Linked DNA regions of Homo sapiens: region 2 is linked to region 1. The links come from fine-mapping of genetic effects on gene expression. A gene starts in region 1. The other region holds a variant in brackets. All regions are shown on one strand. Distances are from middle to middle.

Region 1 (5,385 bases):
GAAAAGGCAATGAACATTTTTGATAATTTGCTACTACACGTGTGTCTGGAATTGGTTCCTTCCGGTGGGTTCTTAGTCTGACTTCAAGAATGAAGCCTCAGACCTTCGTGGTGAGTGTTACAGCTCTTCAAGGTGGCATGGACCCAAAAAGTAAGCAACCCTAAGATTTATTGTGAAAAGTGAAATAACAAAGCTTCCACAGCATGGAAGGTGATCCGAGTGGGTTGCCACTGCTGGCTAGGGGCGCCAGCTGTTATTCCCTTATTTGTCCCTGCCCACGTCCTGCTGATTGGTCCATTTTACAGGGTACTGATTGGTCCATTTTACAGAGTGCTGATTGGTGCATTTACAATCCTTTAGCTAGACACAGAGCGCTGACTGGTGTGTTTTTACAGAGTGCTGATTGGTGCACTTATAATCCTTTAGCTAGACAGAAAAGTTCTCCAAGTCCCCACTCGACCCAGGAAGTCCAGCTGGCTTCACCTCTCACAAGCAACGTTATGTTTCTCATCTTCTAACAGAGCGTTCTGTGAAGGTCTGAGATGCTCCTACATTTCTAGTCTCATGGAATCTCGTCTTTTTTCAATCTGAAAACAAAATGGAAATGTTTTTGCCTCAACTTGTTTTTTTTCTTAACCAAATAGGATTCCTTATGGTAAAAATAACTGGGAAAATGGTGGCTCCAACTATGTTTTCACAAAAAATTGTAGCTTAAGTGAAATGCAAATGTTCATAAAGTCATTTTGCTATTACTAAAATAATTTATATACCATTGTGATGATTCACTGATTTAATTAATGAATTCATAAGAAAAGTAAAATCAAAGCCTATGGAATAAGCCTGGAATATTTTGGTATCAGTTTTGCTTGCATATCCACAAATTATAGATGGGGCTGTATTTTGTAAAAAAAAAAAGAACTGTGTCATATCTACAGCATAATGAATAAACGATGTGAACAGAAACTTCACAGAGAAGTATAAGTGCTCAATGAAAATATGAAAAGATTCACCTCATTAGGAATTAGAAAATAAAAAAATGAAAGCAAGGCAATATTATTGACCTATATTTACTTGAATTTATCAACAAAATAACTGGTGAAACTGATAGGATTATAAATCATCAGATTATTGTTTATTTGTAAAAGATAGTTGCTCCTAAAATATTTTCTAAAATAAAGAAGATTATGAAAAATATTAAGAAACCTGAATTGATATTTTGTAACTATATGTTCCCACTTTGGACAGTTTCCATTTTTTTTTAATATTCTGATGTCATTTACATTTTATTTTATAATCATATCCCATAATTGATATCTTAGTTTTACGTTTGAATGGGTTAAAATCTCAATGCCAGTTTTTTTAGTTTTTCATTTTTCCCATATTAATACCTTTATTGCTGAGTTATTTACTTTGATTACTCTTGATTGAGTGGACTTTTTGCCCAAGAAAGATTTTTAAGAAGGGTTCTTGGGTATTGTGTTTTTTGAGTTTTTGCTGATTTAGGAGAATCCTGCCCCACCAGTTTGGCTGTAATATTATGGGATCATGCTTTTGTTCTCAGCCTTTTTTACACACTGCACATTGCCATCAGATGCCACTGAGGAGTCTAAGGCCACTATTGTCATTCCCTTGTTTTTATGCCTGGGTGTGAATATAGTCTTTATCCTTTATGTTTAGCAACTTTACCAGGATACACATTGGTATTCATTGCTCCTTGTCAATTTTTCCTACCAAGGACTCTCCAGCCTCACTTCTCATCACCTCCTTTGCTGGAGGCACACCTGCCTTGCCAACTACTTGCCCTTCTGTGAACTTATTATGCTTCTTCATATCCCTGTGGCTTGTCAGAGGCAAGTGAAATTTCTTCGTGCTCTACTCCCACTCTTGTCATTTACTGCCACCATTCTAGCAGATTTACCTTCTCAGCATCTTCTCACTCCCCAGGTGACACAACCACTTTCCCCTTCCACCCTTGAAATGTAACACAGATCCTTAGTATTACAGGGAATTATCATTCATATTTAAAACTCTCCTACCCAGGACTGTGAGCTCCAAGGAAAGGGACGTGTAACTTACATCCACTTAACGACGCAAGCAATTTAAAGCCAAGAGTTCTTGTTGGCAAGAATTGGGAAAGTTGGACGGACAGTATACAATTACCGAGCAGCCAATAAACAGGAAAAGTCATACAGTTCGAATGTTCTGACCAGGCGGATATTCTGTCTTTAAGAAACACTAATCATATACCTGGGAAAGAAAAAAATCTTGGGCCCCTTCAAACTGGGAATTACTCAGGGCAAATCTGCCTCCTATTCTATCCAAGTCACCTCTTTTGCTGACAAAGAATAGATGCATATTCTGATTGCCTCCTTTAGAAAGACTTATCAGAAACTCAAAAGAATGCTACTGTCTATTACCTACCTGGAAGCCCCCAGTTGGGGGGGGCGGGGCTTGCTTTTAACGGTCTCCGCCTTTCTGGAAGGAACTAATGTACTTTTTACATATTGATTGATGTCTCCTGTCTCCCCAAAATGTATAAAACCAAGCTGTGCCCTGACCACCTTGGGCACATGTCCTCAGGACTTCCTGAGGCTGTGTCACGGGCATGTCCTCAACGTTGGCAAAATAAACTTTCTAAGTTAACTGAGACCTGTCTCAAATTTTCGAGGTTCACATACCGTAGGTAAAAGTGTCAGAAGCCTAAAGGTGAGCCAGTGGAAAAGCCTGAAGACCCCTGCAAGGTTATTAGCTAAGCCTCCATAACGCAGGCGGCAAGTGTCCAGGAGTCTGGCGTCTGCTCGCCTGCACCACGACCTCCCTCCTGGGGAGAAGGACATGCATGGTAAGCCATTTCTCCATTTCCATACTGATTGCTTCCTCTCACCACCACGGCCCATCTGCGAAGCAAAACTAATCCTGGCGTGGAACAGGCCGCCTGAGGGAAACAGCTAGAGCCCGGCGCGGGGCGGAGCTGGTTGTGCGCATGCTCCGTGCAGGCGCAGGCGGGGGCTGAGCGCCGTCGGGTTACGCCTGCGCTCCGGGTGAGCCCGCGCCTGCGCCTTTGCGGCCGTGATTCGGTCCCGCTGTCCTAGGCGGGATGGTGCCGCTGTGCCAGGTAAGGGTGGCGGGTGTGCGTGCGGGCCTGGGTGCGGAGCCCTCCTCGACGTGTCTCTCCCGCCCTTTCCCTCCACATACCCAGCCTTGGTCAGTCGGACCTCCCCACTAGCCCCCAACCTGGCCGGCGTCTTGGGTTCGGGGGCGCCCCCGCCCCCGCCCCCGGGCCCTTCCTGTCTCCGGGCTTTACTGCGACTGCCCCAGCAGAAGTCGGGTCCTCTCCGAGAACTCTTGTCAGCTCACGGCAGCAAGGACGGACTCGTTCTGAAGGCGCCTCCACCTTTTATGACCACCTCTTTCCCAGATTATTCGTTTTGATGAAGCTAAAATTTTAATCTAAAAAGAAATGCACCTCATGGAGAATTCTTGTGAAGAACTGTGCTTCATCTGTGGATTTCTACACCCTTGATCATTTGCAAACCTGTAATTATTTCGTAAAGAGTTGTTTGCACGGAGTGACAGGTGCCTATTTTACTTCGTCGGATCCCTTACATACCAGGCTGCTGGCACAAGTTTGTTCTAGCAAATTCCAGTCTGTCGTGTGTTTCAAACCTACTTGCTTCTGTAAATGTCAGATTTACTATGTTGCATAACTTAATCCTTAGCGTCTGGGGACGATGTTATACAGACCGGAATCTAAGGTCATTTGACAACCGTGAGAAACAGGTTTTTCGCTTATTTATTCATTTATTTTATTTGTGTAACTCATCTCTTGACTCAAACATTTGTTCTTTGCTTACATATTTATAAAAGGTGCTATACTTTTATGTCAATTAAGGCAGGCTTAACATGTTTTCCTAGAAGATAAATACTTAGGATTTTAATGATGGCACACTTAAGTTTGTAAAACTAAAAGGCATCCAGAAATTAGTCTGAATTGTATTTAAAACAACAAGTTTTCAGAATTTGAACTTGTAGGTATACTGAAATTTTTTACGGGTTATTTAATTTTCTTTATAAAATTTGTCTTTGATTAAAGCAATACATTTGGAAAATGAGAAAACTGCTCAACATTGACAGTCAGAAAACGAGTATGAGTTGTTATTAAAAGCATTTTCTTTACTTTCAGGTTGAAGTATTGTATTTTGCAAAAAGTGCTGAAATAACAGGAGTTCGTTCAGAGACCATTTCTGTGCCTCAAGAAATAAAAGCGTTGCAGCTGTGGAAGGAGATAGAAACTCGACATCCTGGGTAGTTAAAAATTTGTAGAATGCATATGAGTAACACTTAGATATTTTCAAAATACATAAATGATAAAAGTAAAAAGGTTAATTTCGATTTCCGTGCTTAATGTCAAAAAGAATCGTTAGTTGTATTTTTTTTGGAACACCTGAAAAACTCTAAATGTGCACCGTATTTTAAGAAAGGTTAAAGATATTTTACCCCAAAACACAGTGAACCGCAGAGGGACATGATTATATTCTCTTTGATAATTTACAAAACACTGCACATGTCACTTCTGCAATTTTATAACATTAAATGAAATTGTTACAAATTCTGTTAAAAATGTGTGCTTTAAACATTTTGTTCTGCCCCTCTCTTTAGAGAGCTCAACATAGAAATTTCTAAGATTGAAAGAAAAATGAGTTACAACAAATCCTAGATGCTGCTGAATTTGAGTTTTTGTAATATTTAATTTTTTTTCTGGTTCTTGAAAAACCTATAATTTTACTTATGTCATTCCCACTTCAAGTTCTTTTTGGAACAAAATATAAAAGTGACTTATTTGAGGGTGATTCAGGAATATTAATGGTGTTACTTAGCTTGTATAGGTGTTTAACCTGGAAGTCCTAGTTCTGTGTAAAAGATACTCCATAATAAGTGTTTAAAAGCAAACCACTTCATGATTTCGTATCTTTTAAGTTGCTCTTACAGTGGCCTGATAATCAATAAAACACAGTGGGGTCTCCCATTCTGCTTTACCTGGAGGGAGACAGCAGGTCTTGTATACGTTTTCACTGTGCCTGAAAAGAAAGCTTACCATTGTTCAGGTATAAAGGAACAGCTAATAAAGCTGTGTTGCAGGTGGCTTTATGACCTATGCTATCTTTTTCATCTTTCTAAGCAACTTAATCCATATTCGAGTAGGATAATGTGTACAGGCATAGTTTGTGGGCAGTTATACTTGTGCTTGAACACATGGATAGAAGGACCCTGGAAAGGCCATGTACTGATTGGAAACTTTTCTTTTGACCTGGTTTGAGTGTTGCCTCCAGTCTGGTGGGTTTTTTGTGCATTTTTTTGTTGTTTAATTCCCCAAGGCATACAACA
Region 2 (5,385 bases), 190 kb after region 1:
ATCTTGATTTTCCTGCAGGTAAATTTTTTTTGCTTAACACAGAGGTACCTCTCTGTACGTCTGTTAACTGTTTTGGCTTTGATTGTTATTATTTTCCTTGACTCTGTTTCAGTTTCAGTGGTTTAAGGATTTTATGAAACACACAGTTTTTATACATGAGCTATCCTTTTCTCACACAGAATCTAAGAAAAGACATACATATTTGAATAAATAAAACAAAACTTTTTTAAAAAGCTTAATACTTTCACCATTGGTGAGGACTAATGTAAAAAATTCCTTCTATTCTTTCAAAATCAATCTAATAAAAGCAATTATCTCAGTAGCATGAAAAGTAGGCCAGGTAAATGATGTTAAGAGAACAAATAAATGAAAAACTGGAAGTTTACCTCAATTCCTGAAAAAACTAGATTTGGAGAATAATGCACTATTGTCCTGGTGTTATAGGCACTGTCCTTTGTATTTTTGACTGTGAGGCTAACGTTGAACTTATCATTCTGGGATCGGACAATCAGCAGGTCCTTTTCAGTGGTGGCGACATGCAGGCTGAGGTCTGAGATACATTTTTCCTTATTTCCACAATCTTTGGCAAAGGGAATCTGAAATGATGACAGGAAAGAATTTTTCAAAATTTAGCTACGCATTGTTGAAAATTACCCATCAATTTGTGTAACAAAAATGGCATACAGCCAAAGTAAGTTAAGCAACTCATAAGGAGAATTTCCCTGCAAAAATCTTAAGGGATTTTATATTTATCCCTGTAATTTATAGGGGAGAAGAGTAAACATTTACTTACAAATGTAAATTGTGCTTGTCCTTTTAAGAACGCACAATTTTCATGGGTGCTTTGCACTGGCTTTTGTCTGCCAGGGAAGGACAGTTTTGAAATACAAAGTCAAGTACTGCAAGATCTAAATCTACTCAACTCTAATCATGAGATTTTTCTCTTAAAATTAATCAAATACTTAGGAATATCATAAAGCTCAGTTGAGAGGGTGGAAAACGGTCAAGCCACAAATCTAGGAGTTTTGCTTGATTCTTCTTCATTGACCGCCTCTCCACCACCACCATATGTAACTCACCAAGCCCTGTCCATTCTACTCCTCTTCTAAATATCTCTCCAATCCTTTCTTGCTTCTGCAGTCCCACCACCACCTCACACCCAAGCATTCTCATTTCCTCCCTGAACTAAAGTAATAGCTTCCCACGGGGCTCCCACATCCACCTGTTTCCCTCCAACCACTCTTCACTCTGCTGCATCCTGTCGTGTGGCTGAACCAAATAAAAACCTTCAAAAGCACTGCACTGCTCTTTCAAAAGTTTAGAATTTGTGCAGTGGCACCAAGTCCCGAATGACCCGGCCCCTGCCTTTACCTCCGGCCTCACCTCACGTCACCTCCTTTCTTGCTCTTTAGCGTCAGCCACACTAGCGAATGTCGTTGTTTCCTTCATGCTCAGGACTTTCACACTTAGCATCCCCTCTGCTCCCCAAACTCCCCTAAATAGGGTGGAAATCACCCTATCCTTCAGGGCTCCACTGAAATGGCACAACTTCAGGAGGGCTGTCCTGACTTCTCAGCCTAGGTGGAAGTTCCTAGAGAGCTCTGAAATCCTCCTCCATAGCATATGCTCTAATTACTACTTAATACCTGTTTCCAGTGTTAGACTGTAAGCTCCAATGCCTGGTATGTATAAGACAATCAATATATCTGGTAGGAAGGAAGGGAGAATGGAAGATAGGTGTATGGGGAAAAAGAATTCCCCATCCCTCATATCTCTTCCATTGGAGCCACGCTAGTGACACCCTCCCTCTTCTCTCCCCTCACTCCACTCTCAGGGGTGGCACATGGACTCTAACTTTGGGAACAGGAACTAAGTGAACACAACTCAGTCCCTTTCTCTCATTTCTATTCTCAGAGCAGCTGTACCCACAGGAAGCACACATTTGGCTCTACTCCATTTGACAAGTTTTACAAGGTGGGCTCCATGAAGAAGGACAGAGATGGATCAGCACTGCTGATGACCTAGGTGGTTACTGGTGGTCTAAGTCCATGCTTCAGCGTGAGGACACCCTTTATACCTAAACCATACACTGCAATCCAGTGCTTATTAGAATAATGGGGGAGATTTCTTTCCATTGGTCCTAAATTCAAATGAGGTAAAAATGAGTGTCATTTATTAGTTTTCTTAAACTCCAACAATAGGAAATTAGAAGGATTGGAAAAAGTCTAGAAGAGCCTAATTCTTTTTTAAAACATTTTAAATTGATTTAGGGTTATGTGTGCATGGGTTTCAAGCTTTTTCCTAATGTTACCAGGGCAAACCTGGAGATATGGCTGAGAAAGTTTACTATTTTCTTGAAGAGTAGATAACTGAGAAAGTTCATTATTTTGTTAAACAGTAGATAGCTGAGAAAGTGCATTATTTTTTCTTAAACAGTTTTTTTTTTTCTAGTCTATTTATCTGTAGGTAAGCTTGCTGAAAAACAACTATAGACGGCCTGGGAGCTTCAGGACCCTTTGCCAATTACCAGAGGAAGATAAAGCCATTGAGAAAACGGAGCAAACAAGAACCAGCAACCCCTTGTTACCTTTAGATCATTAACATGTCATTATAATGCTAAAGTCCCTGCCATAGAAGAAAATGGCCACCATTTCTTGAACATATGTTGTATAAGGAAGCATGTTTATGAGCTGTACTTGTACATCTGGAGTTCCTCTCTGGACATGCTTACATATACCTCCCTGCCCCACATCTAACTCCTTAAAATTCCCCAGGTTTTCACAGCTTGAAGAGAAGGTCTTTAGAGCAAGAGCTCCCTCTTTCTCCATTCCTGACCAGGAATAAAATCTGCTTGCCTTTTTTTTCTTTCTTCCAGTTAGTTGTTCGTTCTTTGTGATCAATGCAGAGTAGTGAAAAAACACAGTTTACTAGTGACATTAAAATGTTCACAAGTTGGTATTTTGTATTTTAAAGAAATCTGACTTACATATTCATGTACTGAGTTTGGTAGAGAATCATCAAGAACAGGCCCATTTTCTGGATCGGTAAGATTAAAGTCCAACGTTATTCTCACAGAGTCCTGAAAGTCATGCTTGTCCTAGAGGGTGAAACATAAAATATATCACTGGTATCATATTTACCGGGTGTTCTGATCTTGTTATGTCTCCTTCTTCTGTTCCCAAGGGTCAGGCTTACTGCAGCATTCTTGTGCATCTAATCTGACATATGATCTCATCAGGCTTTTGCTTCCCTGGAGAGGGATTGGCATTCTGACAAGGGGCATAGGGGAATGTGGAGGTTTCAGAGTATGACCTGTTGACTCACTTCCAGTTCCTCAGAGGGCCCTGCTGGAGTGATGGCAACATCACAC[T/C]TGGCTGTGTCAACATAGGAGCTACCTGCATCACAATATAGTTTTTCTTGAGACCTCAAGCCAAAGATCATTATGTAACACTTCCGGGAACATTTCCCAACTTCAGAAGGGCAAACTTTCTATAAAATGAGTTACATTTCATTAATATAATATATACCTACAGCTATAAGTTTTTGTTTGTTTGTTTGTTTGTTTGTTTGTTTGAGACAGAGTCTCTCTCTGTCACCCAGGCTGGAGTACAGCGGCACGATCTCGGCTCACTGCAACCTCCACTTCCCAGGTTCAAGTGATTCTCCTGCCTCAGCCTCCCGACTAGCTGGGATTACAGGCATGTGCCACCACACCCAGCTAATTTTTGTGTTTTTAGTAGAGACGGGGTTTCACCACGTTGGCCAGGCTGGTCTCGAACTCCTGACCTCAGGTGATCCACTCACCTCAGCCTCCCAAAGTGCTGGGATTACAGGCGTGAGCCACCATGCCTGGCCAAGAATTTTATAATGTAAAATTATTTGGAAAGGATGTGAATATGATTAATACTGTTAACATGCCACCAATAACAATAATCATTTATAGTATTCAAAATTATGAGCTTTATATACATTATTGCAAATTATTTCAACAGTCCTCTAAGATGAGTAACTATTATTGTCCTTATTTTACAGATGAAAGATTGACCCTCTAAGAGACCAAACGACGTTGCCAAAGTCTCTCAGAATGTGGAATATTTGGGATACAAATTCTACACTGGCTGACTCCAGAACAAATTTCAAAGTGCTTCTTTCAAAATCCAAAACAATTTTCGAAATTTTGAAAATATTTCAGTCCTTTAAACACCAGTACCTGGACATAACTTAGACACTGAATTTGTGGACAAACATAGACTGAGATGATTTTTAGCAGGTTGGAGACAATGCCATATCTGGTTTCATACCCATTCAAATTTTATCCACATTCTAATTCCTAAGTGTTCAGTTCTGATTAACTAAATAGGAGGGGCAACTCCAGTGTTATTTTACCAAATAATAGATTGATCTTGGTCCTGACAGAATAAGCTTCATGATAAGTATCATGAAGCATATCAACATGAAAATCACTGAGGAAGAACAAATGTGGCACAAAAGGGTGCACATTTTCTGTCACTCCCCTGCCCCTGAACTACAATTTTCAAAATACAGACTATGAATATATCAATAATACAGAAATAAGTCAGAAGTAGGAAAATTGGCCTGGTTCCTTTAAAGCTCCAAGTTTACCGTCAAGTCTCTAAGTCTTAATGTCAGTTACTAAAATCAGTTTCCTCATTACCTTCATGCTGCTTCTTGTTTTTATCACTCTCATGTACATTTTAAGAAAATGTTTAGGAAACTCCTGCCCTCTGTTGGGAACATTCCCCATATACACAGTGTCCCAACAAAATACATTTTAAATGATTCACACTGGCTTACCAGCCATCTCTAAACATTAATAGTTTGATTTCCAAAACTCCCTCATCCACTAAAATTAAAAAAAAAAAAAACTGAAGTAGCACAAAGCCTACAGATGATAGAAAATACCAGATAATTTTCCCCTTCGCTCTAAAATCAAACGGCGAGATATGTAGTTACATGGATCCCAGAAAGCATACAGCCCAGCAGTCTGCCCCCAGAGCAGTTAATCACTTACCAACCACAACTGACAGACAAGGCCCACAGAAATTAAATGTTTTCAAGTTGAAGGAATAAATGAATGAGTGAAAGAAATGAAGACATGAATAAGGTTTCTTGTCAACTAGAACACTGTGTCTTTTCCTGCCGTTCCATAATATATGGATGTCTGATAATGCAGACAGGGAAGACTAGAGATAGTTTTACAAATATTTGGAAATGAGAAAATTAGACCTGCGATTTTATGATAAAAATGAACAAACAAGATTTCCTTTATGACATCATAAGTGCATTTTGAAATAAAACAGTAAGAATTTGATTGACTTGAAATAAGACATCTCTACTGTATTCTTGATTTGGAATAAGGCAGCA

Direction of the effects. Positions count from the first base shown, and alleles are read on the strand shown. Sizes are in standard deviations (SD) of each study's normalised expression.
With allele T in place of C in region 2, the expression in neutrophils of the gene that starts at base 3,070 in region 1 is higher (large effect, 0.76 SD a copy in BLUEPRINT).

The links.
Region 2: its variant is fine-mapped to the expression of MOCS2 in neutrophils (BLUEPRINT, PIP 0.90).

What each region holds. Positions count from the first base shown.
Region 1 is chr5:53,107,442-53,112,826 of GRCh38, reverse strand. MOCS2 (molybdenum cofactor synthesis 2) reads left to right here and starts at 3,070. Exons shown (of 7, transcript NM_004531.5): 1 at 3,070-3,576; 2 at 4,184-4,305. MOCS2-DT (MOCS2 divergent transcript) reads right to left here and starts at 2,985. Exons shown (of 2, transcript NR_104654.1): 1 at 2,679-2,985. RefSeq lists a silencer at 3,042-3,331.
Region 2 is chr5:52,920,489-52,925,873 of GRCh38, reverse strand. It overlaps ITGA1 (integrin subunit alpha 1), which reads right to left. Exons shown (of 29, transcript NM_181501.2): 18 at 2,987-3,097; 19 at 387-596. Among named protein-coding and RNA genes, the nearest start is that of ITGA2, 66 kb to the left of the region's middle. The variant T/C (reference allele first, on the strand shown) is at 3,371.